3 separate regions of the Homo sapiens genome follow, and all the other regions are linked to region 2. Evidence: fine-mapped expression QTL. A gene starts in region 2. Each other region holds a variant in brackets. All regions are shown on one strand. Distances are from middle to middle.

Region 1 (10,363 bases), 52 kb after region 2:
GGAATTGTTAGGTCTTGGGGTAGTTATCTCCTCACAAAATACCTTACATTATTCTTTAAATTAGATAAATGTTGAGTGAAGTTTGATTTCTCTCATTGTATGTGTGTAAAGCGACTTTGCTTGAGAAATTAGCCTAAAAGTCTATGTAACATGGTCTGATTCAAGGTTTATATCAATTTATGAAATTTGACATAGATAACTTATAATTAGCCTGCTTCATCTTTCCCGGATTGAAGTTTGTTTCTCATTCATTCATTCATTCATTCATACATGCTCCACCTTTAAGGCATCTTCAGAAAAGTACACGTGTGTCACCTGTGTATAACCAGCCATGCCTTGGTCCAGTCCCAGGATTAAGTCACATTCAAAGAAATAAGTATATCAGAGAAAATAATTGAAAATAAATATTTACTTCACCTTTCAGAAAACATCCAAGGGGGTAATAAATGCCATATATTTGATAAAACTTTAAAATCCTCTTTCTCCATCTCTCTGACCTTTTACATGTCTCTCAGCTACTTCCCCAAACTCTTTCTCCTTTTTGAAACCCTTCCCATATCCAGTCAGTGTATCTCCTCATGTCCTTACCTTTTCCCCTTCTTTCCTTTTAGGTTTATTTTCTTCTATTTCTTCTCTCACTATATTTCTTTTTCCACTTCTCCCCCTAATTCATTTCCCACACCTGTGTTCATAAGCTCAGAACCAGGAAAAGGAAACAAACCCAGAGTTCCCTTAGGAGGCAGCATGAGGAAGGAGGCTGAGATCATCCATATGCTATTATATTTTCTCATCATTGCACTTATTAAAGAAATTACGATATACTATTTAAAAATGGAAAGTCCAGACCAGGGAACATATAAATTGGCATGAAAAATGGGACAGTAAATTGCATGCTGCTCTTAGTTGTATGACTGATGCAGAACTACTTCATGGTCGGTGTTAAAAAGGGACTCCTTCCCATATTTCTTCCTCTTAATGAGTAGAGCACACGCCAGTCCCTTTGATAACAAAGCCCTTCCTAGTCCTTAACTCTCTAGGGGCTAAGGAAAAACTTCCCCTTCACCCTCTGAAGCTTCACTGAAAAATGAACTCATAAAAGGCAGATTAATAAGAGAGAAGCATACAATTTTTTTTTAACATTCATGAGGAGAACCCAAGTGTTTGGGAGACCATGAAGTGTTTACCCAAGCCTACAATGGGGTGCAGAAGCTTCTATACCATCTTGAGGTCACGGAAAGAATGGGGCTCAGGGCATGGCCAAAAATCAAGATTACAGTGGCAAGATAGATTATGGGGAAGGAAAGAAGAGGAGGAGGCCTGGCTTGTGAAGGTAGTCTTGTTATACAGATGAAACCTGATAGGTGGCAGCCATCAGAGAGGATAGGTGGTAAATGCTTCTTTCAGATCTTTAAAGGTGTCCGACTCTCAGTTAAATCTTTCCTAGATCAGGACAAGGGAAGACCTGGCTGGATTGATGCAAAACTCCCCCATGAAAGACAGCTTTGCAGGGGTACTTCTGTTTGCAAGCCCTCTGAACAGCCATCTCAAAACATGTCAAAGAAGCATATTCTGGAGTGAAATGCTTTTATTTCCTTCACTAGAGGTGTTCTCTGGTTCTCCAACACCAGTTGAGTGTCCAACAATTCCATTCAATTTTGACACTAACTTCTCAGAGTTAGCCTCAGACTCCACAGATTTAAGAGCTCTGTTGTAAGTCCCAGGTCCCCAGACCACCTGTACTTTTGTCCACCTTGACTGCAAATTTGGGGTTTCCCATGACCGCCTCCTCAGGTTTGAGAGTTCACTAGAACTGCGCAGGGGACTCAGGAAAACACTTTTCTTACACTTAACCAGTTTATTATAAAGGATATAACTCAGGAACAGCCCAATGGAAGAGAGGCAGAGGGCAAGGTATGGGGGACTCAGGGGTGGTAGGTTGGGGGATTCAGGGGTGGTGCCAACAAGCTTCCATGCCCTCTCTGGGTGCACCACCTTCGCAGACGCATAGTGTGTTCATCACCCTGGAAACTTTCAGAACTTCGACATTTAAGGGTTTTTCTTGGAGGTTCATTACCTATGCATGATTGATTAAATCATTAGCCCTTGGTGATTTTTGTTTGTTTGTTTGTTTGTTTTTGAGACAGAGTATCACTCTGTCACCCAGGCTAGAGTGCAGTGGAGCAATCTCAGCTCACTGCAACCTCTGCCTCCCGGGTTCAAGCAATTCTCCTGCCTCAGCCTCCCAAGTAGCTGGGACTGCAGGTGCATGCCACCACGCCTGGATAATTTTTGTATTTTTAGTAGAGATGGGGTTTCACCATTTTGGCTAGGCTGGTCTTGAACTCCTGATTCAAGTAATCAGTCCAACCTCAGCCTCACAAAGTGCTGGGATTACAAGAGTCAGCCACTGCGCGAGGCCTAGGCCTTAGTGATTTAACTCTATCTGCTGTCCCCTCCCCTCTTGAGAAGTGGACTGTCGGGTGGGGCTGAAAGTTCCAACCTTTTAATCCTGGCTGGATCTTTCTGGTGGCTAGACCCCATCTAGAAGCTCTCGAGGCACCTCCCTCCCTCCGCAGCTTTGAGTCATCTCATGAGAATACAAAAGACGCTCTTTATCACTCACGAGATTCCAGTGTTTTAGGAAGTCTGTGCCAGGAACCTGGGGACAAAGACCAAATACAGTAATGTTCCACATAAGCCACTGGCCTCATTTATGATGGTGGTTCCATAAGATTATGATGGGGCTAACAAATTCTATCATCCAGTAACATTGTCACCGTCATAGTGCAACACATTACTCAGTGATGCTGGTGTAAACAAACCCACTGTACTGCCAGCTGTGGAAAAGCATAGTACATACAATTATTTACGGTACATAATACTTGATAATGATGATAAATGACTGTGTTACTGGTTTATGTATTTACTACACTAGTTATTATTATTTTAGAGTGTTTTCTGATTATTAAAAAAAAAAAGCTAAACAGAACAGCCTCAGGCAGGTCTTTCAGGAGGTGTTCCAGAAAAAGGCATTGTTATCATAGGAGAGGATACTTCCCTGTGTGTTATTGCCCCTGAGAACTTCCAGTGGGACAGGATGTGGAGGTGGAAGACAATGACGTTGATGTTCCTGACCCTGTGTAGACCCTCTGTGTTTATGTCTTAGCTTTTGACAAGTTTAAAAAGTAAAACAAAAAAGTTAAAAATTTTAGAAATAGAAAAAAGCTTATAGAATAAGCATATAAAGAAAATATTTTTGTATGCTATACAATGTGTTTATATTTTTAGCTAAATATCAAAAAGTTATTTAAAAACTGATAAAGTAAAAAAGTTATAGTAAGCTAAGGTAGTTTATTATTGAATGAGGGAAAAAATTATATAAATTTAGTGCAGCCTAAGTATACAGTGTTTAGAAAGTCTGCAGTAGAGCACAGTAAGCACATTTACTCACCACTCACTCTCTGACTCCCCAAGAGCAGCAACCATACATGGTAAGGACCCTATACAGGTATATCATTTTTTCTTTTCTTTTTGAGACAGGGTCTTGCTCTGTTGCCCCAGATGGAGTGCAGTGGCATGATCATAGCTCACTGTAGCCTCAAACCTCCCAGGCTCAGGTGGTCCTCCCACCACAGCCTTCTGAGTAGCTGGAACTACTCAGGATGCCACCATGCCTGGCTAAATAAAAAAAAAAGAAAATTGTAGAGACAGGGTCTTTCTAGGCTGGTCTTGAAACTCCTGGGCTCAAGCAGTTCTTCTGCTTTGGCCTCCCAAAGTGCTGGGATTACAGGCTTGAGTCATCGTGCCTGGACACCATTTTTTAATACCATATTTTTATTTTACCTTTTATGGTTTTTTTTGTTTGGTTGGTTTTTTTTTTTTTTTTTTTTTTTTTTTTTTTTTTTTTTTTTTGAGACAGAGTCTCAATCTGTCACCCAGGCTGGAGTGCAGTGGCATGAACTTGGCTCACTGCAACCTCTGCCACCCAGGTTCAAATGATTCTCCTGCCTGAGCCTCCCGAGTAGCTGGGATTACAGGCACCTGCCACTGTGCCCAGCTAATTTTTGTAGTTTTAGTAGAGACAGGATTTCACTTTGTTGGCCAGGCTGGTCTTGAACTCCTGACCTAGAGATCCACTGCCTCGGCTTCCCAAAGTGCTGGGATTACAGGTGTGAGCCACCGCGCCTGGCCTACCTTTTATGTTTTTACACCTGTTTAGATACACAAATACTTACTGGTTACAACTGCCTACAGGATTCAGTACAGTAACATGCTGTACAGTTTTGTAGCCTAGTAGCAATGGGTTCTACCATATAGCCTAGGTGTGTCATAGGCTATTCTATGTGGGTTTGTAGTAAGTATATTCTATAATGTTTGTATAATGACAAAATCACCTAATGACACGTTTCTCAGAATGTATCCCTGTCGTTTAGCAAGGCATGATTATATTTATTTATTTTTTGTTATACCACAACCTGTGGTTGGTTAAAATCAAACTGGTAACTTGAGAGGTGGCCATTGTTGGATTTTTTTTTAAGAGCGTGATCAAGACCGTCTTGTGATTGGATGGTCATTGTCATGGAAATGCACCCTCAGAAAGATGAAAGCAAGGCCAAGATTTTTCTTCAAAATCTATTTTGGGTTTGCCTTTACATGTGAATGAATTATCCAGACTCAGAGTTCTGCACTAACTTTAGAAGGAAAAAAATTTAGAGTAGGTACTACCAGTCTACCACCCCAGAAATTCTGTTTTTGAGCAACATCACTTCCCAAGCAGTAGCCAGCATGTAGCAATTGGAAAAAATACCTCTAAGATGTTGAATGGACATGTTGGATGTAAACCAACTAAATTGAGAGCATCTGCCAAAATAAGTTTTAAAATTTCATACCTGATATTAGATTATTCTTTCTGAAAGTACCTGTAATGACAGAATGATTTATGAGGTCACTTCTAGTTTATGACAATGAAAGTATATTATCATAAAAGGGTACGTATGTCTAAAATTATTCAAAAGCAATGTCAGATTAATATAAGAGTTTATTTTTTAAAGTTGAGAGGAGAGAGAAGTTAAGCTAGAACATATTCTAATTTTATGCTACTTATAAGTGTTTTCTGTCATCAGGCCATTTCTGCTGATCATAAACTATGTTTCCCTTACGAGGCTTTCAGTAGAGTATTAGTTTATATACTAAACTGATTCGTTTCAGGATTCTGTATTTTAGCCCTTATTTCCCTCAATATTTCTACAGTTTAAGTAGTTAACGGGAAAGTCAGTTAAAATTGGATGACAGAGTCGCTGGCATCATTGAGTTTGTGCTTGCTTGAGATTTTTCAAGATAGTATGCTTTGTGTTTGACTAAAATGTCTTCAAGAAAACAACATTTTGCTGTT[C/T]TTCCAGAATTATGTCACTGCAATATATTGCTGTTGTAGCAAAATATATGTGTCACGAAAATATATGCCAATGCTGCTTTCTATAAGATTCATTGAGTAGTCAGAGAATACAGTTCATTTTGAGTAAAAAGCATTTCTAAAAAAATAATTTAAAAAGGTTTCCTTTACTAAGGAATTCTAGCAAAATAAAAAAATATTTTGGGAGACTTTCTTGGCTTTGTAAGGGATTATAAACAGCTTTGTGTAAGGGATTATAAACAATGATGAACTGATTCAATGCAGATCTAAGTAATTAGATATGAAAATGAGACTTAACTCTTTAGAAATCCTACCTGTTAAAATTTTCCTTCTAATACTCCCACTTCCAAGAGGCTGTTTTGAAGTCATCCACCATAAATAAAAAATTCACATCTGTAATATTCTAATTGCAGATTTCAGGGTAGTCTTGAATAAACCTTTTGCTTTTGCTTTAGAAATATGTTTATTGCTACTCACTGCCAGTAGTGAATTTTTTCAAGTATCATAGACAATACATTGAATAGCCATAGTAATGATTTAGACATAGACACTAAGACACTAATGTGATATGATGCTCAGTTTGCAATTATTTGTAACATAAAAGCTAAGTTAGCCAGTGTGGTAGGCTGAATAGTGACCCCCAAAGATAGCCAGTTCCTAATCCCTGGTACCTGAGAATGTTACCTTTTATGGCCAAAGAGATCTTGCAGATGTGATTAAGGGCCTTGATATAGGGACATTAACTTGGATTGTCTGAATGGGTCCTATATGCAATCCTAAGTGTCCATATAAGAGGGAGGTTTGACTGCAGAGAAAGCAGTGTGCCATGCAGCTGGCTTTGAAAAATGGAGGAAGGGGCTACCAGTAATATAGCTCTAGAAGCTGGAAAAAGCAAGAAAAGAACCTCTAATGGGGAGGATGGCCCTGTGGACGCCTTGATTTCAGCCTGGTGAGTCTGATTTTAGACTTCTGACCTCCAGAACTGTAAGAGAATAAATGTGTGTTAAGTTACCAAGTGTGTGGTAATTTGGTACAGCAGCCATAGGGAATTAATACATCCAGTCAATTTAACTATGTTAAATAAGCTACGTGCATAATATCAATGTAAAGCAAAAGAGAATAAACAACTTCCAAATACTTTCTTTAAATTTCTCTTTGCCAAATTTGATTAACTTCTGAGTTGCGGTGTTTGTCAGCTTATTCTTGGTTGATAAGCAGTAAAATTCCTAATATTTAAATATATTTGTAGGCCTTTTTGTTGACTTATAGCACAACACAATTCTCTTATTACCTGGAGTGAGTTCCCTTTTCTGGTTCCCTTCCTTAATTTATAGATGAGATATATATTACCATTGTCTGCACCATCAATTTCTCCAAACCATTTTTAGGCCGTGACTCAGCATTCTGACTTCTAGAAAAGGGAACCAAATTCTCACATGGGGCAATGTGTACATTCAACAAAGGGCTGTTTTGTTTTATAAATAATACAATGTAGACATTCTACACAGTGTGCATCCATTTTGCAGCAGTGTCATTTTGATCCTGGTACTGGGGGATGCTTATAAGGTTTTCTGAAATGTCCCACCCCAAGGCTTCTCTGAGAGAGAATTTGGTTTTGGCCATTTCTGGCCCCCACACTTTGGTTACCGGGGTCTTCTAAGACCTGCTGACCCACCACTGTTTTAACAGTACAAGGAAATCCTAGAAAAGGAAAATTGAATTGTTGTGGTTTCCCCTGATTGGCATTCTGTTTATCTGTCTTTATTAGAATGTGGTTGTTCTTTGAGGCTAGGGGAAATGCTGTTGTGTGTATGTGTACCCATCTGAAGGATATATTGCTAGTTATTGAACACAAAGCCAAAGAATCTCTTTTCCTAACTGTATTGGTTCTTTGAAGCCGGAGTATTTTCGTTTTAACTGATGAATTTCAGTTTTAGCAGTGGGAAGAATCTCATTATCACGATTAGAAAAAAGGAAAAAAAGAATGCATGTCTCCATGGGTTACACTAGAATCAGGAACATCCACAGGTTTTTCCAGTGATTACTCTTAAATCTTTTGTTTTTATTTGGCCAGAATTCCAAGAGAAAATTTTCTTCAAGTGAGTTGTTGTTTTAACTGTTTTTCTCCCTTTGCCTTTAAGTTTGACTTAATTTGGCATATAATGGCTCATAAGTGGGGATTTTCAGTGGAAATGGAAAACTATGAAATGACAAAATGAAATGGAGTTCAAAGAGTGATGTTCTTCTAGAAATAATAAGTGGCTTTGTATTGATGACTAAATTCATAGAGTTAAATACAATTAATATTTATGTAGAGTGAGAAAAAGGACATGAACATATATTAATACCTGGCATTTGTCACATACCTTCTTTTTTGTGTTAAATATGTTGTGCTTTATATGTTCTCTCATTTACTTGGATTCTTTGAAATCCCCAAGTAAGAATAACAGCAGCAGCACAACAAATTAGTAACTTTTGTTTATTAAGCTCTTCCTGGAAACCAGGCACAGGTTGTGTTTAATAGTAAAGTAAGCTTTCTCTGTACCATTTGCTTTAATCACCATTAAAAACCCATTGGAGGCTATTATTTTTATGTCAAGGACAACAAACCTGAGGCTTAGATTTGGTAACTCGCCAAAGGATGTGCATCCAAAGTACAAGACGATTCAAACACAAACGTTTCTGCCCAAAGACTGAGCTCGTTCCATTGTCAGAGGTGGCAGAAGTCAGAATTAGACGACCAGGAAAAAACAGCCTAGGCCCTGAAGGTCAGAACAATGCAATGACAAGGCTGCAGCCAGAACAGCCAAGAAAAGAACCAAGAGAAGGTCCCTGGAGGGAGGCAGACCAGCTCTATCTGATTTAAAAAAAAAGTGATGTGGGATTGCAGTCCAGCAATTTACTAAGCTAGCTGGACTCAGGAGAAAGAATGAACCACTAAACAAGAGGTAGCAAAATGTTGCCATAGCTGCAGATATTTAATTTTGTTGTTGTTTGTTAACCTTATAATTACAAAAGTAATATATGCTTACCGTACAAAAGATTCAACACCACCACATTACATACCTATAAAGTAAAAGTTCTTGGCTGGGCACGGTGGCTCATGCCTGTAATCCCAGCATTTTGGGAGGCTGATGTGGGCAGATCACGAGCTCAGGAAGTAGAGACCATCCTGGTCAACATGGTGAAACCCCATCTCTACTAAAAATACAAAAATTAGCTGGGCATGGTGGTGCTGCATGCCTGCAATCCCAGCTACTCAGCAGGAGAATCGTGTGAACCAGGGAGTCGGAGGTTGCAGTGAGCCAAGATCGCGCCACTGCCCTCCAGCCTGGTGACAGAGCAAGACTCTGTCTCAAAAAAACAAAAAAGTGCAAGTTCTTCTCTCCCCACTCATTGACCAACCGTTTTCTCATACATCCACCGAACCTGTATATATCCATATCTATGTGTATATTTGGTCTTGAGGGATTTTGCTTTTTTTGTTGTTGTTTTTTCCACAAAAATGGAGTCATGCTGCAATACTGTTTTACATCTTTTTTTCATGAAATAATGCTATAGCTACATATTTTATATTAGTACTCTATTTCCCTACAGAGGCGATTTTAAGGAGAAAGTTTGTATGAAAGAAGACTTTCATGGGTCTGTTCTCATGGCTGGTCAATTTTGATATTTTCTAGTTTTCTTCCTGGAGCTATTAGCCCCAAATTATAGAGCAGTGTTTTGTTGTTGTTCTTGGTTTGGTTTTGGTTGTTTTTTTGTTTGTTTTTATTTTTGCTTTTAATAGCCTTTGTAGAGGAATGGGCTTCTGACTGTCTTGGCTTCTGGACTTTTCCAGGGCTAGAAATTCTGCAGTGGAAGGAAAATGTAATCAAATGTGAGACTTAGAAAAAACATAGGGAAGTGCAAGACCCTTGGGATGGTTTAGTTTGGATATAAAAAAGAAAAAAAAATTTTTTTTTTTTTTTTTTAATCAAAACAACTTTAACACATTTCCTACTCTTCTCCGCCAAGGGCAAACTATTAGAGCCAGACAGGACCTTGAAAATCATGTTAGCCTCTTGCTTTTGTTTACTTAGAAGTCCCAGGGGGTTTATCATATTTCCAATGCAGGTTGCAGGGCTGATTACAGAGAAAGCCAAGCCCAGAACCCAAATCTGTGTTCCAGTCTTTCTGTGAGTGCACAATCCATTGAAGCCCACTAAATTTTCAGGCCCCCACATAGTTTGTAGAATTTTCAGAGTCCACTGGATTTTATTTTAAAGTTGACGTTTACATATATGCCATAGCCACATTTAGAGGGGCTTCGGGGAGGCCCTGTGGCAGTTGGCTGTAACCTAGGCTTGTGAATTCCCGCTCCACAACTAAACTGTGCCCTGTGACCTTGGGAAATGGCCCTAGTTTTTCTCAGCCTTCCTTTTCTTATCTGTAAAATAGAGATAAAACTCCCTACCTCATTGGGCTTTTGTGAGGATAGGCTAATATTTGTGAAGTACATAGCATGGTGCCTGGTTCCTTAGTCAACTTAGTAGTTCCTGTTAGAAGAAAGCTGTTTAAAGCTTGTCATAAGTTTTTGAAAAGTAAAATTCAGTTTAAAAAATTTGACAATATTTGTGTGTTAGATTATTATAGTAGGAGAGAGATTTCAAAGACTACTTAAAATATTTTTAATATGTAATTGTACATGGTATAAAATTCAAAATGTACAAATGAGAACATAATAAAAAGTATTTGTGTGTGTGTGTATGTACCCTTGTACACATATTTTCTGCATATACTTGTTACATTTTAAATACTGTATCTTTAGCCTTCTCTCTAATCTCTTGCAAATAGGACTAACTATAGCTCTAGATCAATATTGTCTAGTACTTTCTGTGATGCTGGAAGTATTCTGTATTGTGTGTTGTCCAATAGAGTAACCACTAGGACATGAGTCTAGAAATGTATTTCTTA
Region 2 (10,363 bases):
ACGTACTATATGATTCAATTTATATAGCATTCTTGAAATTATAGAGATGGGAGATTAGTGGTTGCCAGAAATAGGGATGTGGTGAAGAGGAAGATCAGTATGATTCTAAAGGAGTAGCTTATGGGAGCCTCATGGTGATAGCTCTGTATTTTATTGTGGTGGTGATACAAGATATGATAATGTTGCATATAAACACACACACACACACACACACACACACACACAAACATGCATGAATGTACATAAAACTGGTGAAACCTGGCTGGATGCGGTGGCTCACGCCTGTAATCCCAGCACTTTGGGAGGCCGAGGCAGGTGGATCGCCTGAGGTCAGGAGTTCGAGACCAGCCTGGCCAACATGGTGAAATCCCGTCTCTACTAAAAATATAAAAACTAGCCGGGTGTGGTGGTGGGCGCCTGTAATCGCAGCTACTCGGGAAGCTAAGGCAGGAGAATTGCTCAAACCCAGGAGATGGCGGTTGCAGTGAGCTAACACGGTGCCACTGCGCTCCAGCCTCGGCAACAGAGTGAGACTCTGTCTCAAGAAAAAAAACTGGTGAGATCTGAATAAGCTCTCAAGATTGTACCAATGTCAATTTCCTAGTTTTGATATTGTAATGTAATTTTGTAAGACATTAATCATGGGGAGAAAACTAGGAGGAAACACAGGACTTCCCTGTACATTTTTTACAACTATTTATTAATCTGTAATTATTTCCCTTGAAAAAAACCCCTATTAGCATAATCACTGTAAATTTCTTTTACCCAGTAATACAAACCACCACCACATAATGTCACTTTTTTAGGGATTCATTTCAAAATTTTAAATTATATTTTAGCACCAATGTTGTAGCAGCTTATTTGAATATGTTTTTCAGAAAGTGTAAAAACTATGTAATGAATTCTCAAGCTACTGAACAGACTATTCGTAGAAGAAATAAGACAACAGGAAATTATTCAAAAGCAGATATTTTTAAATTAGCTGTGAATAAAAGAAAAGGAAAAATTTATTGGGCTAACTCTAAATAATCAGCCATAAGTATGACATGATGACAGCTATGCGGACAACAATCCATGTCTATATACAGCAATATTTCTTTCTCAGTACACTCTGGTAGACGCCACAAAGACGCCACAAAAAGGTGATTTCTAACTCCTCTTCAGATTTATAACAAGCCAAATGAAACACTGAACATAGGTCTATCCACAAAAGGACACTTACATTTTTCTCAAAACTCAAGATATTATCATAATTAACCAGTAGACAAATGACCCCAGTTTGTGAAAATGAGCCACTGCCTTAAATACTATTAAATAATAAACTCTCTTCTGCCTCTTTAGTTGCAGGATGGCTACTCGTATCCCTCCACACATGATCATCAGTATTTGCCTCCTGTGTCCCAACCGGCCTGAGTCAAGTAAGTGTATGAAAAGAGGTGTTTCTCTCTGCGCTAGAGAAAGAAGGATAGGTTCACTAAAGAGTGAATTTTCTTGGTGCTAGTAGCCTAAGCTCATCACTTAATGCATAAAACTCCTCTCCCACAGCTTTTGAGAGACCTTCCAAAGACATTTCAATATTTTCAATAGCTCCAAGGTCATTACTTAACCAGTTTTGAAACTACACTCAAAACTTACAAATTTTGTTAAAGAGTAAGCAACTCCCAAATTCTCCTAAGTGACTTCATCCTGTTATTTATACATCACATATGTACATATACATTCCTATAATCAAGTAATTCTAAATTTGGGACAAAATATCATACACAATAATCATTGTCTTTTTTTTTTTTTTTTTTTTTGAGATGAAGTCCGGCTCCGTCGCCCAGGCTGGAGTGCATAAGCGCGATCTGAGCGCAGCGCAACCTCTCCCTCTCGGGTTCAAGTGATTCTCCTGCCTCAGCCTCCCAAGTAGGTGGGATACAGGCATGTGCCACCATACCCAGCTAAGTTTTGTATTTTTAGTAGAGACAGAGTTTCATCGTGTTGGCCAGGCTTGTCTCAAACTCCTGACCTCAAGTGATCCACCCTCCTCGGCCTCCCAAAGTGCTGGGATTACAGGTGTGAAAATAGGCCAGGCGCAGGGGCTCATGTCTGTAGTCCCAGCACTTTGGCAGACTGAGGCAGATGGATTGCTTGAGCCTAGGAGTTTGGGACCAGCCTGGGCAACATGGCGAAACTCCATCTCTACAAAAAATACAAAAATTAGCCGGGTGTGGTGGTACATGACTGTAGTCCCAGCTACTTGGGAGGCTGAGGTGGGAAGATCAATGGAGCTGGGAGTTGGAGGTTGCACTCTAGCCTGGGTGACCTAATGAGACCCTGTCTGGAAGAAAAAAAAAAAAAAACAGAAAAGAAAATACAGTAGAGCTCTAGATCAACCAGAGACTCAGGAGCCTTTCATTTGGGCAATGTTACAGCAATATTTGCCAATATTTTTAGAATTCTAGTTTCATGAGACATTACTAGTGTTGTATTCAAAAACAGAAATACTAATCATGCTTCTTCATTACAAGAATTGTCTTTAGATAGATAGGTAAGAAAAATACCGAACACATTTGCAGGATTGCCACTGTTTGGCAATGTTTCTCTAAGCCCGCCTACCTTAGCCCTCTAGAAAATCACTTGGGAGAAATCCTGTTGCCTGAACCCAGAGATCCAGCTGCCTCCCACAGGCTCAGCGAAACAAACAAATGGCGGAGTGAAGTGATCCCTCTCTTCTTCCTTTAAGAGAGGAAGGGATCTCTGCTTCTCTTATCTACTCCAAAGTCTCATCATACAAAGGTTGTTTATTCCTGCAAAAGTTAAATGACAAATCCACCTAAATTATCCTCCAATGGCCCATACCCTTCAACAGAGAAAGGCCAGTTTTCATATTTAAAGGTGGCCCTCACAGCCATAAAATCAGTGTGGTATTATATTTTTTCATTAATTCAGCATTTACCAAGTAACTTCCGCAGCCAAGAACAGTGAAAAGTGTTAGGGATACCATTTTTAAAAACTTTATCATAATAAAGTATATTATTCTAGTAATACCTTTGATTGATGGCCACATTCTAGACTTTAAGAACCACTTGGGATTATCTCCTTTAATTCCTATATCCACCCTATAAAGTTGGTACTGTTACCATTCTTTATGGATAAAGCATATCCTTTACGGATAAAGCAACTGAGGTTAAGTAGTTTACCCAAGGTCAGCACGTGGTGGAGCTGTAGTCTGAAGCCAGAGCCTGAATTCTTAAAGATTACCATGTTCTTAAGAAGTACACTTTCTACTGAGGTTTGATCTGTAGTATACTAAGATTTCCCAAATTATTTCATGTATTATATCTTATCTCCCAATTAAAATTTGACCTTCTATTTAGGGCAGCACTGTTCAAAAGGATTTTCTGCAATAATGAAAATGTTCTAGTTTGTGCTATCCAAAAGCACAGTCTAGCCATAATTTAAATTTAAACGGCTACAAGTAGCTAAGGCATACAGTACTGGACAACACATGCAAGGAAGAGTTTCATTTCTTCCGATTTATCTATAAAGCCAAGGCTTAGGTAAATCAGTTAATGGAAAGGAACAAGTGAAGAATCTTTAGGAGGAGTTTGTACTCCCTTAGCTGGGGAGCAGAAATCTTTATTATATCAGGACTTTCAGTATAATAAAAATGTTATAAGAAGCATATGATACAGCATGCAGTCCTAGAGGAGTTCATAAAGATGGATTCTTACATTCCTTGCAATATCTTTGGAAGACCTTTTTTTTTTTTTTGAGATGGAGTTTCGCTCTGTCACCAGGCTGGAGTGCAGTGGTGCAATCTCCGCTCGCTGCAACCTCTGCATCCCGGTTTCTAGTGAATCTCCTGCCTCAGCCTCCCAAGTAGCTGGGACTACAGGACCCACCACACCCAGCTAATTTTTTTTTTTTTTTTTGTATTTTTAGTAGAGATGCGGTTTCACCATGTTGGCCAGGATGGTCTCGATCTCTTGACCTCGTGATCCGCCCGCCTCGGCCTCCCAAAGTGCTGGGATTACAAGCGTGAGCCACTGCGCCTGGCCAGAAGACTGACGTTTTATAATTGATGGTCACAACTTTAAAAATTCATACTCAGTTATAGGTTTTTGTCTAATAAAAACATCACTGCTTAATTTATTTACAAAACATGGAGTCCATAGAGAGAAAAACAACAGGGGCCTCTTGATAGTAAAAGGATGAGAAACAGGGAAAACTTGTAAGTCAATGGACACTTCCTTCAGAAACTACATTCAAAACTTAAAAATTTTGTTAAAGAGTAAGCAACTGCCAAATTCTCCTAAGTGACTTCAACGTGTTACTTATACATCAGATATGTACATACATATTCCTATAATCAAGTAATTCTAAGTTTGGGAAAATATCATAAATAATAATAGTTATCTTTTGAAAATAAAGTGGGGCTCTAGATCAACCAGTGTCAGGAAGCAGCCAAGTCACACCCCACTGGGTGCTTCCTGGACAAGCGCAGTGCAGCTCCCACAGGGCCTCACACCCAACCTTCAATTTGCTTAAAAGAACTATCTCAAAAAATCTTAGCTATTTAGTCACAATTTGTCCTTGCCAGGGAACATGTTTTTCTTTTGCCTGATTTTCAATAACCTTAGATTGCAAAATCATAAAAGCACTCATCAAAGAACTGTGAGAGCAGCTCAGCTTCCCTGGAGATCTCAAACCATGTTCCTTTGATACAATGCAATCAGCTCTTTATACTTTAGGAACCTAATTTTCCCTTACTAAATGCTAAACAATTTACAAATAACACAATGGCTACAGAAAAAAAAAATCCAACATCTTTACATTCAAATCCCAAAGATATAAACCTGACGTCTAAATTAATACGTGCTTAGTGCAAAACTGGGCAATTATTCCACATTTGCAAGACAGTATAACATGACCACCTGCTGCTGAAATGCCAAAGCCACCACTGTTAACGCTTTGCTCCGCCTTCCAGAGAGGTTATTACAGCTTAAGCTGCGTCAACAACCCAGAGGAGGCTGCTATCTAGTTTATCTGTGTGGAAGGCCTGTAACACACTGTTAACAGAGTAGTTGCAGGCCCTTCCTTGGGATATTTTTCTGCGTATAAGAGTGAATGAACTCCACGGCCAGATCCTCCTAGTCATGTTGCAGTGCTGGTCATGGGACCGCAGAGGGAACAGCACCCAACTGGGGATGGGGAGCTCACAGGCACAGGCCCCGCAGCTGATGCAAACCTTCCCCCTCCAAGGTTCTCTCGAGTCTCTGCCAAGAGTCGGCTGGAGGGCCCAACTGCTATGTTCTTATTGCTGTAATGACTGCAATTTGGCAGCATCCAGGATGGTGTACCGGGAACGGGAGGGGGAAGGAGATGGTGGGCCCCTCTGTTAAACGCAACGCCAGAAGGGACACAGGATGAATTTATTGTGGCCATCGGTCCTGAGCTGGAAGGAAAGTCAAAGGGCTTTAAAGCTGGGGAAAAGCTCTAACTCCTGCTCTGCTGTCAAAGCCTTACTTCCCACGAAGAGTAGGGGCCAGGCGGGCCAACTGTAAGGGGGAAGCGGCCCGGGGTGAGGTAAGAGGACCCTCCTAGGTGCCGCTGCCAGGCGGCGGTTCGCTGGGGCAGCAAGGCGCCCGCACTCGGGAGGCGCCACAAAGGGCCGAGGCCTGCGGAGGCCGCACGCGCAGCTCTCCGGGGCGGAGCCGCCGGGATCGCGGCAGCGGAGGCTGCAGCAGCCGCGGGTAGCCGGGGTGCCCAGCCTCCCAGCTCGGAGGTCGCGGGGGGCGGGGAGGATGCCGCAACTGCAGTCCGAGCGGCAGAGCCCGGCGCGAGCTCCCAGGCCCCCGCAACCGCTGTGAGGCGCAGCGCGCGCCACTGGCCGGGAGGAGCTAGAGGCGGGCGTCTGCACAGCGTCGCGCCACCCGTGACTGCCCGCCTTCAGCCGGGCCCGGGACCCCGTAGCGGCCCATGCCCTGACGGGGGGCGCAGCTGCGGGGCTGGCGAGGCGTCGCGCGTGGGAAGAGGCCTAAGACACCCCGACTGCGGCGGCTGCGCACACCCGATCCGGACGCGGGGCCCCGCGGGCGCGCGCCTCGGAGCTCCCGCCTCCTCCTCTTGCTCCTCCTCGGCGTACGGTCCTCCCCTGACCCCTCCTTCCACCCGCCGAGAGGATGCGCTCCCCGGCGCCCAGCAGCAGAGGCCACCGCTCCCAGAAATGCATGCGACCGATCCCCTTCTCCCGGACCCCAGGAGCCGGCGCCCCCGCCCTGTAGGTAGGTGGTGAGGCGGGGCCCAGCCCTCGCCGCCGCCCGCCGCTGATGCTGCCGCCGAGAGGCCGCGAGCAGGGTCCAGGACCGGCCAAACTTGCCTCCCGCCGGGGGCTCGGTGGAGCGCTCGGAGGTGTGCTAATGGCGCTGGGCGTAGCCCCCTGTGAACCTGAAAACCTCTGCTTGAGCTCGGGAGGCCGAGCGGGGGCGAAGGAGAGATTGACCCTTCCCCGCCCACCCCTTGGGGGGCTCGTGGGGGTGCGCGCCAGTACGAGAGTGGGGAGGACAGGTTGGCATGGGGCTTATTTGGGGAGAAGACCGTTGGATTTTCAGCAGCTCAGGTGGAAATATGTCACTGTGTTTTTCCGGCTGGATTAGCAGATGCGTTCTTCCCATCTTTCTAGCCAAAACATGTAGACAGGCAAAGGGTTATTAGTGGCATGTAGAAGTCGCTGTGGATTTTTGTGTATTTCAGAGCTAGCTAGTTGGTATATAAAATCGATGGGGCAAACCCTTACCGTCAACACGTTAGGGCCAATTTAGAGAAGGTCCTTCTAGAAGTCAGATTATTCTGGAGATCGATGAGGCTGGGATATTGTTGTGCTGAGTATTTAGGAGCCTCTGCTTACGTGAAGGGATGTGTTTTAAGAGTGGCAACTTTGATACAGGTGTCGGGAGTTGAGATTCTGCTGGAAAGATGTACCGGGTCAGCCAGCAGAGGCAGCCTTGTGCCCAGCCTAACTTCCAACTCGATGTTATGCTCTGTATTTCTCAGAAACTGGTTATGTATTAATGCTTTTTTTCTCCTCTAGGTGTAAAGTTTATACATCAGAGCTTTTGGCAAGATTCCCTCTTCCCAGACTATCATTTTTTATTTTATATTCAGCAATAAGGCTTAAAGTTTTGAAAAATGCATCACTGTAAGCTCCAATTTTATAGTCACTTAGGTATAGAGATTTGGAGAAGTGACTCAGTATAAGCTCAAATAGGACAGAATCTTGAATCTGTTTTTTTTTAAATCCTGTAATCTTCTGCATCTTATGCAGAATAAGTACCCATTAGTTATTTGTTGAATGAATGAACTGTGTTTCAAGCTTTCATCTAAAAACCACAATTTAGAATCACAGAATTGTTCTGTAGCCGGTGAAATTTAATTGAATTTCAAAAATTGCCTCTTTGTATAAATAGGCAAACTCAGTTATTTTAACATTTATATTTCAATTCTGACATCTTTAGGACCATATGCTATCTTTCTGTAATATGTCATCAAGGTTATGAGGTAATTCTCCCCAACTCTTAAGTTCATTTCATGTCTAAGCTTGCAAAATTTCCAGTCTCACTGGTAATCATGCCAACTTCAACTGTGCTCTCAAACACAATTTAAAAAGTAAAAGTCGTGTTTTAAAGAAAATTGTAAGTTACGCCAGAGGAAACAATGATTTGGTTAATAAGTGATGTATTCACTTATTTTAGAGTTGAGTTTTTCAGGTTTGATCTAATTATCATGTCTTTTATCACAGGCAAAAGTAGAAATAAAACATGTAGAAGTGTCTGTGATTCTTAAATGATTCAAAATGTGTGATATAGATACACAATTTAAACTGTTTTCTCCTCGGTATAGAAACACATCAGTTTCCAAATTTGACAGCCAGGGGATTGTGAAATGAGGGTTTGCAAGATACAGTGTCTTCCTGCTTTAAAATGTTATATCATTTTGAAAAAAAAAAAGAAAAACAAGGTTAACTGCATCAAACTTTATTTGCTTTATTTTTACACTATGACATTTTCTGTTTTGATTTCATCTTTTTTCCATCACATGAATTTCATGAGTCAGTGTGAACTTCTTTCAGTCTCTGCTTAACAATATTATCTGGGCATGCTCCCAGGTTTTCTTTCTGACATTTTAATGCATCTTTACCATCTTCACTTCATATTACTCAAATGACTTATTTTTACACAATATGGTAGGCCATACTTTATTACTATTGCTTCTCCAACCTACTTATTTTCTTCCTAGATGGATAAGGAAATAAAACTTTCCTATAAAAGTTAATAAGACTGCAGGAACCAACAGTGGGAGGGAACTTATGAAAAAAATTAATTTGTTATGATTTATTAAAACAAAGCCAAAATTCCCTCCTGTAATAAAGATAATTACATTTTACACTTCTTAAATTTGTAACCCAGGGTATTGAGCAATTAATTTACCTGGCTCTTCCTTGCACACTTTAAGCTTTTCAAAAAAGCCCTCCCCTTTGGTTACAGTAAGCTCTCTTTACCTTGTTACTTATAAGCACTTATTTGTTCATTTTACAAGTAGGAGTTGAGCCTTTAACTGCTCAGTTTAACTGCTATTACTTTGGCTTTGGAATCACAGTCAAATAAAAGCTCTAATCTCAGATTTGAAGAGGTATTTTTCTCTTCTGTGTGTCCTACAACCAAATGCGCAGTGCCTCTGGGATTGGTTGACTCACTTTTGGGTCCTACCTCCTGATCCCCCAGCACTCCGCCCCCACAAGCACCACCAGAATGCAATCCAAGACCTGGATTTCCTCTCTTTATCTTCCTAAAGGCTGTATTTTAGAAACCTCTATTCCTTTCTTGCTAAATGCCATTTACTATTGTTTTTAAAATCCCAGCCCATAATTTTTTGTTTGTTTAAATTCAACAGGATCCACTCAATTCACTTGTGCTAAAATCAGAATTGTTGATTGCAGAAAAAAATATACAGAAGTAAATTTGTATGACCTTGAATTTCAGATATAGTGAATACATAAAGAGTGATTGTTGTCTACTGGTCTCCCCTCAACAGTGATACAAAATGCATTTGTTTCTGTACATGCCAGAGAATATGAATTTTCTGTTGCTAAATTTGATCAGAAGCTTAATTGAGAGAAATGATGTTTACGGGGGGTTGGCTGAACAAAGGCCATGACGTCAACCTATTCCCTTCCAATACTAGCTGTTAGACCAGAAGTCTAGCCAGATCTTCAGAAGCTGTACTTTGGTACCTTGTTTTGCATCCTTAACACCCCCCCATATGCCCACACTGAGGGATTTTATTAATACAGTCAGAGGAAACTTACTATTATGTTACTTTCGAAATGTGGTTATGATCATGGTACTTTCTATAGTTTCTGTTTGAAGACTCATGCAAGAAATTCCATTTAACTTTAAATGCCAAAGAAAAGCTTTACTTACCCTGAACAACTTGTGTGTGTGTGTTTGTGTGTGTTCTTTTCATCATGCAAAATGAGAATCAAATCATTGATTATATTTCCCTTTCTAACTTGGCAACTAGGAAATGAACAAATTTGCAACTCAATTTTAATAATCATATAAAAATTCATAACCTAATATCAATATTTTATCTTTTCCTATGGTCTTGAGCTTCTGTTCTACCTTGTTTTTCTTGATTCTGATGTTTATCTAATTATACTTTTCCATTTGATTGAATTATATTCTTTTAAGATGACTCATATCCTTTGTGGAACAAGGCAGATTATAAAACATAAAACCAAATAAATGAAGCCATTGCACAATTGATCTCTGGACACAGTATGTTTTTGATGAACAAGTTTAATGGGTTACATTAAATGTTTTGAACAAGAATTGCAAATTTAGTACATTTGAACTTAGCCAAATGGAAAACAATGTTACATAGTTTTACAAAACTTTTTTTTAAACTCTTACATTTATATTCACTCATTACTAATTTGAAATTAATAAAGCCATTCAATTTAAGTCAATTATATTTGGAGTACCTGCCTTAAACGCTATATAGGTTGAACAGGAGTTTCAATAGAATAAAGTCATTTTTAGCTGAAGGGCTAGCCTAACTTAGCATAACACTCACCAGAGTGAATCGACAATCTGACCTTCGCGTCAGTGATTCATGTGATTTATCCTTGTTTTAATAAATCAGAGTCTTCTCTGAGCCTCTTTTATTTACCATGAAATTTAAAAGATTGAGCTCCTGGAGTTAATTCTTCATACTGATGTTTTGACACCTAATTGTTAAGTTGGTTGAATTTACCCAGGTAACTCATTATTTACATCGACATGATAAGTTAGGCTTGATATATTTATCACCACAG
Region 3 (10,363 bases), 24 kb after region 2:
TCATCACCTTGCTTCAGGAATAACTTTTTAGTTGTTTGTTGCTGAATCATTCATTTTTGTTTTTTTGTTGTTGTTGCATTGTTTTTGTAACATGTATTTATTTATTTGGGGGGTATTATCTGATTGCTCTCCTTTAAGTTGTTTTTTGTTTTTTTTTGAGAGAGAGTCTCTCTCTGACGCCCAGGCTGGAGTGCAGTGGTGCAATCTAGGCTCACTGCAACCTCCGCCTCTCAGGTTGATCTCGTGCCTCAGCTACCTGCGTAGCTGGGACACCAGGCATGTGCCACCACGTCTGGCTACTTTTTGTGTTTTTAGTAGAGATGGAGTTTTGCCATGTTGGATAGGCTGGTCTTGAACTCCTGACCTCAAGCCTTCCACCTGCTTCAGCCTCCCAAAGTGCTGGGAATATAGGCATGAGCCACTGCGTCTGGGTACCCTTGTAAGTTTGTGGCACACGTTTGTATCTGGTTCTGCGTCCTTCCCAGGTTTCTCTACTGTTACAGGGAGTGTTCAAATTTCTGACCTTGTGTAACATTGAAATTTGAATATTTTTGCTTTGTTTAGATGACAGTGTGGCTTTGAGAGACTGAACACCTGTCATATTTTGGTATAAATATAACTATTTTCTAGGAGGAAATGCCTGCATAGAAAGGTCCATTTTGATCTGTTCCTTACGTGACCAAACACAGTGTGACCAAGCCTCAATGTGTACTCCTGACATCATTTCATTTGTATATTAAGAAACATGTTGTTGGGAAAACAGCTGATGGGCCTCATGGATATACTGCTGTTTTTCTAGTCCTGACTTGTTATACTTGAATATTCAAGGAACTGCAGTGTGTTGGAGGTGAATCCAAAAAGCCATGCTTTGCTATGTGGGTCCACAGCTGTGTGACCCACAGCTGACAGGCTGAGAGGTATTAATTAATTTCCTGAATTCAACAGCACTAGCTGTGGTACGGCAGTTATTTAAATCCAGTCTGGTGTACACTCCAGTGTCTTTCAATAACCTTTGGAGCCAGAAAGCATTTGGGGATGAGCTAGAAAAAGTAGTCCGGAGTCAACAACATCCAGTGCTGCAGCACAGAATTTGCAAGTTAAGACACATGTACCTAGCCACTGGGACAGGGAGGTCATTGAGGACCTCCAGCTGTGTGACCCACAGCTGTGTGGGTCAGTTTGGTGTAGTTAAGGGGTCTCTGCTGGTTCTGTTCTTTTAAATGGTGCCATGTGTACAAACAAGGAACACTTTTCTGATGATTCAAAAAATACTTTGTCTTCATCACAGCTCTTTTGAGGTAAGGATTTTTATGTGCTATTTTTATTTGAATAATGAACTGGATTTAAGTTTAATTGACTATCCTGATTTAAGATTGCAAAAAAAAATATTTAGATGGAAGATTCATCTTGTGCTTTCTCGTGAAATTCTTTTTGGTCTGCAATACACCATAAATGCAGGAGACTCTTAGAAGTCAGCATTTAGATGAGTCTAGAGTGTATTGAATGAAGGAAAGTCAACATTAAATGAATGAAGGGCTTTTAAGAAGCCCATTATGACCACTTATAATGGAAAATGTAGTTCCCATTAGAGACTGATTTAAGGAGCTCTGGTTCTTCACTGAAGCATGAAGGCTGCAGTGTGGTGTTCTGTGCAAATCATTTTTATAGCATTCTCTACTGAGCTCCTTCTGGTTAATCTGTTGGTGTGTCTAAACCTGTAAGAACTGCATCTATCATGTTTAGGGAATACAAAAATTTCCAGAAACTTAAACCAAAGATTAGCATATTTTTCATTTACCTAATAGGATATTGAAAAATAAAAAAAGCCTTACTGGTTGTAATCAGACACAGCAGCACCAGATGTCAACTATTGGATCATTTAATCTTTTTCTCTTGTGCATATTTTCATTAATATTTTTCTACTTGAACCAAATATTAGTTTCTGGCTCATCTTGCAGTATAAAAATTTTCCAATTAGATTGCTGTAACTTAATTTTTATTCATGACTGGAAATTTAATAGAAATCATTGCTTTTGTAACATGTAGGAGATGAACTTTAAAATAAACCACCTGACCCAGGGCAGGGCAGAGAGCCTAGGATTCTGATCTTTCCTGGAGTCTGAGGGAGGCTGGCATGAGACTCCATCCTCCATCCCTAAGTAATTCTTAATTTGGGAGGAATTTTTGGATTTGTATTGGTCTGCCATATAATTGACGTTATCCCCAGTCCTGGATTAATTTACCTCCTTGCTTAGCTTTTATATGGATTTTCTGCCTACTTATGTGCCAGTTATTTAGGGAAGTATAGTAAAAGTGAAACTTGGTGTTATTTGACTTGAAGGAATTTATGGTTGGGGCGAGGAGACTAATTGAAATGCTGTTGTCACACAGTATATGATTAAGTGCCTTGCAGTAAGTTATAGGTGATATATGAAATAAGCTCTTTAGGGGAGAGGAGCGCACACAAGTGGTCAGGGAAGGCTTTGAAGTAGAATTGGGCCTTGTCAGAAGGAGGAGCCTAGCAAGGTTGCCTCGTGCCTGAGGAAAGAGTGAGGATAAAGGTGCAGAGTTGGGGAGACGCCCAGGGGGTTCAAACCACAGTGTGAAACTGAGCTCATGAGAGTTAGACACTCAGCCGCCATCTTTCCTTTTTCTTCTTTCTCCTTGCACTCGAATTCTTGAATGAGTACTAACTACCCCAACTCATGGTAGCATGGCTTCCACTCCCAATACGTCACTAATGCAGTCCCGTTGGAGGTCCTCAATGACCTCCCTGTCCCAGTGGCTAGGTACATGTGCCTTAACTTGCGAATTCTGTGCTGCAGCATTGGATGTTGTTGACTCCGGACTACTTTTTCTAGCTCATCTCCAAATGCTTTCTGGCTCCAAAGGTTATTGAAAGACACTGGAGTGTATACCAGACTGGATTTAAATTGCTGCCGCACCACAGCTAGTGCTGTTGAATTAAGGAAATTAATTAGTACCTCTCAGCATCAGTTTAATGGAAATAAGGACATCTAAATCATAGTGTGGTTGAAAGATAAAAAGATAACATAGGGATAATATGTTGAAGTAAATGGCTGTTGGTAGGCAGGCATCAAGATTAGTTCCCTTTCCGTACCTGGTAGCCATGCTTTCCTTGCCTGAGTGTGCCTAGCCCCTTTCACTTCTATCCCTTTGCTCTGGCATTCCTACTTTCTGGAATTGAAATCCTAACCACTTTACCCATTGAAATCCTAACCACTCTGAAAGGTTTATCACCTCAAGCAGAATTGAACTTCACATCTTTTGGATTCTTACTTAGTATTATTCATTGGACAGCCCCAAGTTACTACCCTACAGTTTAGTTATCTGCACAGTCATATTTTCCTGACTGGATGGAAAACTCTTTGAGGGTGAAGCCCAAGTCAGGGATGTGAAGATAAACTAGTAAGAGCTGAGACTGTGTACTCCCATGTTTCTGTACAGGGCTGAATGAATAGTTGTCAGGCTTCCAAGGTGATCTCATCATCATATTGTTTTTTCTCCTTTTCTTCCTAACCACAAGCATATGCTGATAATTTCTAATTCCTTTCCTCTAGCCTTCACTGCCCTTCTGTGCTTTCAGTGTAATCAAACGTCTGGTGAATGTCTCCAACTCCACTATCCCATAGCCGTCTCAAAGGCACAATGTCCACAACCGATTTCTTACCTCCTTCTGCTCCCCTGTCCTACATGCAGCCTGCCCTTTTCATGTATATTGTACTAGATCTTCGGTGCCGTAACCCACGCAGTTCCTGAAGCAGAAACTTGGAGGACATCCTTCATTCCTTACTTTCCTTGTTATCTACACTGCATGACTCATCAAATGTCAACTCATCAGTCTCCTAAGTATTTCTTGAGTCCATCCCTCCTCTTTCTATGTCAACTACTGCTGCCTAGTTTTGGGTGCTCCTCCCTCAATTAGTTTGACTGTAATTTCTTTTTAATGAATCTACTTCACCCTGTCCTTAAATCCTCTCACGTCAATCCTCTACCTCTGCCGTCTGATTATGCTACACTCCCTCATGGAGAACCCTCTGGTGGCGCCCTTCCATGTACCTTGGGGATGAGAAAATTAGTTTTATCTCATGGACCAGCTCTGATGGATTTGGTAATGGCTCTGCAAATGCTGCCGCTGGGTTCAGCATGAGCAATTGATGGCCTCTGACAAGGTGCAGTGAAGGGGGTGGGCTGCACATAGCCAGCTAGGATTAAGTCCAAGCTCCTTAGAGCAGCATACAAGGCTTTCCGTGACCCAGATCCTGCCCATGTCTTCATCCTCAGCTCACTTTACCCTGGAACAGAAGGGAACAATTTTGTCTTCTTGCTTTTGTTCAATTGAAACCTGCTTGCTCGTACCCTTTACCTGGGAAATGCAATTTTTTTTTTTTTTTTTTTTAGACGGAGTTTTGCTCTTGTTGCCCAGGCTGGAGTGCAATGGAGTGGTCTCGGCTCACTGCAACCTCCGCCTCCCAGGTTCAAATGATTCTCCTGCCTCAGCCTCCCAAGTGCTGGGATTACAGGCACCTGCCACCACGCCCGGCTAATTTTTGTATTTTTAGAGAGATGGGGTTTCACTATGTTGGCCAGGCTGGTCCCGAACTCCTGACCTCAGGTGATCCACCCACCTCGGCCTCCCAAAGTGCTGGGATTACAGGTGTGAGCCCCTGCGCCTGGCCGGAAATCCATTCTTAACCTACAACCTTAGTGTGTGCTCAGGATACCTGGGGTGGGCCTTGCATAGTGTTAAGTGTTATTTGTTTTTAATTGGCAAATAGAAATTATATATATGTTTTTTTAATGATATTTTGAAAATATACATTAGAAAATGGCTAAATTTAGCTAATTAAGTATTCCTGAGGTCTATTTTTCAGCAGTACATATCACATTGTCTTGAAATCCTAAGTGTCTCTCCTGAAAGACAATATATACTGTTAGAGCAAATATCATGTCTTTATCTTTGACCTCTGGGACTTATCACACTCCCTTTCATGTAGTATGTATTGTGGATTAATTTGTTTATTGAATTGAAATGAATTAGTAAATAATTTTGATTGTGAATACACTTTGCTTTATTTATTTATATTTACTAATTTTTTTTTGAGACAGAGTCTCCCTTTGTTACCCAGGCTGGAGTGCGGTGGTGCCATCTTGGCTCACTGCAACCTCTGCCTCCTGAGTTCAAGCGATTCTCGCGCCTCAACCTCCGGAGTAGCTGGGACTGCAGGCGTGCACCACCATGCCTGTCTAATTTTTGGTATTTTTGGTAGAGATGTGGTTTCACCCTGTTGGCCAGGCCGGTCTCAAACTACCAATCTCAAGTGTTCTGCCTGCCTCGGCCTCCCAAAGTGCTGGGATTACAGGTGTGAGCCACCGCACAGCCTGCTTTTTTTGATTTAAATTTGATAGGTGAACAAACTATTGCTTCAGGGTGAAAGGACAAATTTTAGGAATGTTAGTGCTCTGCAGAAATTTAGACTGGTGAATCACTGAATAAGTAGACAATTGGAAATTTTTGAGCAGGGGAGTGGCATGATAAAAGTGGTATTTGAGGAAGCTTGATCTGGAGACAACCTTTTTTTATATTATAGGCTTAAGCCACTGCTGGCAAGCGTGGGTGAGGGTCGCAGGGGTGGAGAAGAGGGAGACGCAAGGGTTTAAAGCCATGCTGAGGAA[C/G]AGCTTCCTGTGTCTTTGTACTTTCATTTCCACATTTGCTCAAGTGGGATGTACTTGCTGGCATGTTTCCGAAAATAAAATAGAGTGCTGAAGTTATTTTTATTTTTTTAAAAAAACATTCTTGTAAAACACCTAAGTGAGCCATTTTACATAATTATCTGAGACATATGCCTTATTAATTGCTTGGGAAGAGTGATTATGAGTTCAATTTTTTTTTAAATAATTAGCATCTACATAGTTAGGCTACAATCTTCCAAAGTCAGTGAAGGTTTTTATTTTGGCATGTTTTAAAATAGTTGTTAGTTGTGAGGAAAATACTGCAGTTTGGTTTTCCATCAGGTTTTGCTTTATAGTTTAACATCTCCATTCTGATTGTAGTTTCTCCCATGGACATTTGCATTTCATATTTGACTCATGTGACTGTTTCCTGGTTAAAGTTTATTTTTCATTTGTTTTAGTCCATGTAGTTCTACTCCATTTTATTTTTCACATTGGCCAGTGTAAACTTTTAAGTTTACAGTTGCTTTGTTATCTTTTCTTACAGGGTTACGACTCACTGATTAAAAAGAGGGACTTTTTCAAATACTTTGCACTTTTGATTGTGTATTATGGATACCAAGGAAGAGAAGAAGGAACGGAAACAAAGTTATTTTGCTCGGTAAGCATTCATTTTACAAAATTGTTATCAGTACTTTAAAGAAATATTTGAGGGGACTTTGTCCTCAAGTATTACTTCGCATTTTGTGTTTTGTGCTTGTTCATAAATAGAGCAGGTAACCAGGAGAAGTAAACTATACTTTGCTTCATCCATTTTATTCATATTAGAGGAGTGTAACATTTGGTTCTTCTCTTTCTAGCTTTGACACTTCTCTCAGGCCAGTGTTGCTCAGCGAATCCAGCTGTCATGCTCTGACCTGCAAATTGCTCCAAATCCCATGTTTAGCAACCTACCTTGAATTTTAAATCCTAAGTGCTTTGTTCCTACTGTTCTGTAGCTTAATAGGTTGGACTATAACTGAAAATCTCTGACACATTTAAAGCTTATCACCTTGTGGGGAGTCTATTACTAAGAAATATTTTTGTAGGTAGGTGAAATGGGTGAAATTATATTTTTGAATCAGAGTCATTTTTAAGGCTGGAACTTGTCCAACATAAATAAATTTGTTGATATCTGAATAGAAGTAATGTAGTATATGATTGGTTACCATTTACAGATTTAAATGTCTATGTGGCACTCACTAAACATAATAAAATGAATTATATGCTAAACATTTGTAAAACATTTTGATAAGCCAGAATGTTTTCAGACTCAGAGAACATAGGCTTAAAAACATTATGTTTCTCCTAAATTGAAATACATGTTAAGAACTGAATTTAGCCTCATTCCATCCCCAGTCCCCAGGCTGTGCTCATTAGAGATGCATTTATTATTTTCTAAACATGAGCCTTGGAGCCAAAACCAAAGTTTGTTGTTGATGTTTTTATCTAGTAATTAAGCTAGATTTTAGGTTGATAATGGGAAAAGGACAGAAACAATTTAAGGACCTACTATGTACTGAGTGTTTTACTTATTATTTTAATTGCCTTCAAAATAAATCTATGACATCGGTTAATTTATCTCCATTTTACCAGTGATGCAACTAAGACTCAGAAAATATTTTGTCCATTTCATGCAGCATAAGAGTCAGTATTAAACATAAGGCCATCTCCAAAAGGCATGCTCCAGTTAGGAATAGTAAATCATGAATAAGGTTTTGGGGAAGCACAAGTTAAACTACCAATTGTAGTAAAATATTTTCTGCTATTATGACTACAGAGAGTAACCAGATTAGGGAAGGAAGACATCAGGCATCTAATGGATGAGGCACCAGAAAGATAGGATATTTAGAATAAATAAGATCTCCAAAGTTTTTATTTTGAGATAATTTTAGATTCACATGTAGTTAGTTGTAAGGAGTAATAGATACCCTGTATTCTTTATCCATAGTACAGTATCACAACTAGGAAATTCATATTGATACAATCCACCAGCCTTATTCAGAGCATTCATTGTATGTGTGTTTGTGTGTATTTAGTTCCATGCAGTTATATCACATGTAGATTTCTGTGGTCACCATCAGTCAAGATACAGAACAGTTGCATTAAAAGGATCCCACATGCTACCTTTTTGTATCCCTACTCACTCCTTCCATCTGCCTGCCTCCTCTGACAACCACTATAATTTGTCATTTCAAGAATACTAGGTGAATGGAATCATATAGTATGTAACCTTTGGCATTTAGCTTTTTCTTCCCTTCAGCATTACTCCCTTGACATCCCTCAAAGCTGTTGCATGTATCGATAGTTTGTTCCTTTTTATTGCACAGTAGCATTCCATAGTATGGATGAATCACAGCTTTTTAGTCATTTACCCATTGAAGGGCATTTAGGTTGTTTCCAGTTTGGGCTATTTATGAACAAAGATGCTAGATGCTACAATCATTTATGTACAAGTTTTTGTATGAGCATGAGTTTTCATTTCCCTGAGATAATTGTCTGAGAGTGCAATTGCTGGGTCAAAAGATAAGTGTATTTTTAGTTTTATAAAAAAGTGCAATACTCTTTTCTGGAATGGTTGTAACATTTGACATTCCCATCAGCAAAGTCTGAGTAATCCAGTTTGTCTGCATTGTCATTTGGTGGTGTCAATATTTTTTATTTTTATCTTAGCTATTCTGATAAGTATGTAGTGATATCTCATTATGGTTTTAATTTGTATTTCCTTAATGGTTAGTGAAGTTTAACATTTTCATGTGCTTATTATTAGCCATAGTGTATCTTCTTTAGTGGCATCTCCTTTCCTATCTTTTGCCCATTTTCTAATTGAATTGTTTAGGTTTTTACTGTTGAATTGTACACATTCTAGTCTTTTGTTGGATATGTGATTTGCAAATATTTTCTCCCGGACTGTAGTTTGTCTTTTCATCCAGTTAACAGAGTTGCAGAGCAAAAGGTTTTAATTTTGATGTGGTTCAATTTATCAGTTTCTCCTTTTATGAATTGTGCTTTTGGTCTGAATTCTAAGATCTCTTTGCCTAGCTGTATGTTCTGAAGATTCTCTCCTGTTTTTCTTTTCTGAAAATTTTATAGCATTATGTTTTATATTTAAGTCTGTGATCCATTTTGAATTTATTTGTGGATAAGATATGAGTTTAGGTCAAAATGGTGGTCATGCTTCTCCTCCCCTTCCTCCCCGTCTCCCTTCCTCACCTCCTCCCTTTCTTCCTGCTCCTCTTCCTGCTCCTCTTCCTCCTCTTCTTCCTCCTCCCCCTTCCCGCTTCTCCCCCTTCCTTCTTTCTCCCACCTCCTCCTTCCTCCTCCTCCTTACTTTCTTCTTCTTTCTTTTCTTTCTTCTTCACTTGCCCTACATAGTGATTTTAAGAGCTATAGTGCCTTCTCAGCCTGAATCCAAAGTGATTCCTGTAGTAAAGGTAACTGCCGGTTCATGAACAACCTGCTCAATGTTAACCTCTTCTTGTTCCTAAAATGTAGAGTCAGGGGAGCCCCTGAAACTGAGAATACAAACCAAAACTGTTCTGGAAGAGCAGCACAGTTTTTTCAACTCAGAAATGTAAAATTGTCTTGCTTATCATGACCTCTTCTGAAAAGTATTCTAAAAATGAAACAAAAAACGTATCCTAAAATGCTGAAATGTGATCTTGGGAGCATAGGGACAGTGGCACAAGGATGAAATCAGTGATGCTCTTAAGACAGTAAGACAACATGATTTGTAACTAGGAAATGAGAGAGATGGAGAGAGGAGAATGGAGAGAAGAGGGGGTAGGAGCAGGGAGAGAGAGAAAGAGACAGAGAGAGAAACACTGACTGACAAACCTGTAGTTTAGCTCTTACAATGCAGTGGAAGCCAGAAATGGTCAAGCTATTAAAAGCAAAAGGCAAACCAAAGAGAAAAGAACCCCCTTCAGCCTATAATCAGAAAAGAGCCATCCAAAGTTATACATCTTTTCAAATGCCTTCTGACTTAACTGTGGAATTACCATGTGGAACTAGCAACAGAACTTACTTGAAAGCTGGTTTCTGACAATGTAGAGCAGAGTTCTCTGGAGCAGCGTACTTAAGGGCAGTCCAAGCAAGATCTCTGGAGAGAAGGATAAAATGTCAGGCCAAGGGTGAGGCCAAACTGATGCAATCTCAGTTTTCTCTAAACTAAATTATACCACCTTACATAAATCTCAACTGGTGTTCTGAGGAAGTCAAAAGGAAGATTTACCCTGATGCTGTGCCTGCTGCCACAATTACATATCTGAAACCCTAAAAACTGCTTTTTAGCCTGCTTCCCCCTTCCACCTAGGAAAAACTAGGAACACCTAGTTTTTCCTCCTGAGTAGTTAAATAGCCAATGTTTTCTTTGTGTGCTATCTTATCATGTGGTTTCATAATCGTTGTGTGACTGTGTTTGATAAATAGTCCTTTGCCAAACCTGTTTTGTTGACGTTTCGCTCTTTAACATCAAAATAGAGTTTAAAATACCCTATTTTAATAATTTTGGATTGAAATTAGTGATTTGAGGGTCACCCAGTCTTTCCTTTCTTATAATTTATCTTGAAATATGCCTGTGTAACTCTAAATAGAGGGGTGGATTAATACTGCTACTAGATAGAGTAAT

Evidence for each region. PIP is the estimated chance that this variant, and not a neighbour inherited with it, causes the effect.
Region 1: its variant is fine-mapped to the expression of NCOA7 in monocytes (TOPMed, PIP above 0.99).
Region 3: its variant is fine-mapped to the expression of NCOA7 in whole blood (INTERVAL, PIP above 0.99). The same link has a PIP of 0.9 or more in monocytes and monocytes after interferon gamma.

What each region holds. Positions count from the first base shown.
Region 1 is chr6:125,836,999-125,847,361 of GRCh38, forward strand. The region is part of intron 2 of NCOA7 (nuclear receptor coactivator 7); the gene reads left to right. Among named protein-coding and RNA genes, the nearest start is that of NCOA7-AS1, 23 kb to the left of the region's middle. The variant C/T (reference allele first, on the strand shown) is at 5,393.
Region 2 is chr6:125,784,796-125,795,158 of GRCh38, forward strand. It overlaps NCOA7 (nuclear receptor coactivator 7), which reads left to right and starts at 6,165. Exons shown (of 16, transcript NM_181782.5): 1 at 6,165-6,272. RefSeq lists silencers at 4,898-4,997, 5,588-6,427 and enhancers at 5,451-5,951, 5,952-6,452, 6,648-6,747.
Region 3 is chr6:125,809,050-125,819,412 of GRCh38, forward strand. It overlaps NCOA7 (nuclear receptor coactivator 7), which reads left to right. Exons shown (of 16, transcript NM_181782.5): 2 at 6,242-6,355. The coding sequence starts at 6,306. NCOA7-AS1 (NCOA7 antisense RNA 1) reads right to left here and starts at 9,809. Exons shown (of 3, transcript NR_126386.1): 1 at 9,761-9,809. RefSeq lists an enhancer at 9,034-9,535. The variant C/G (reference allele first, on the strand shown) is at 5,698.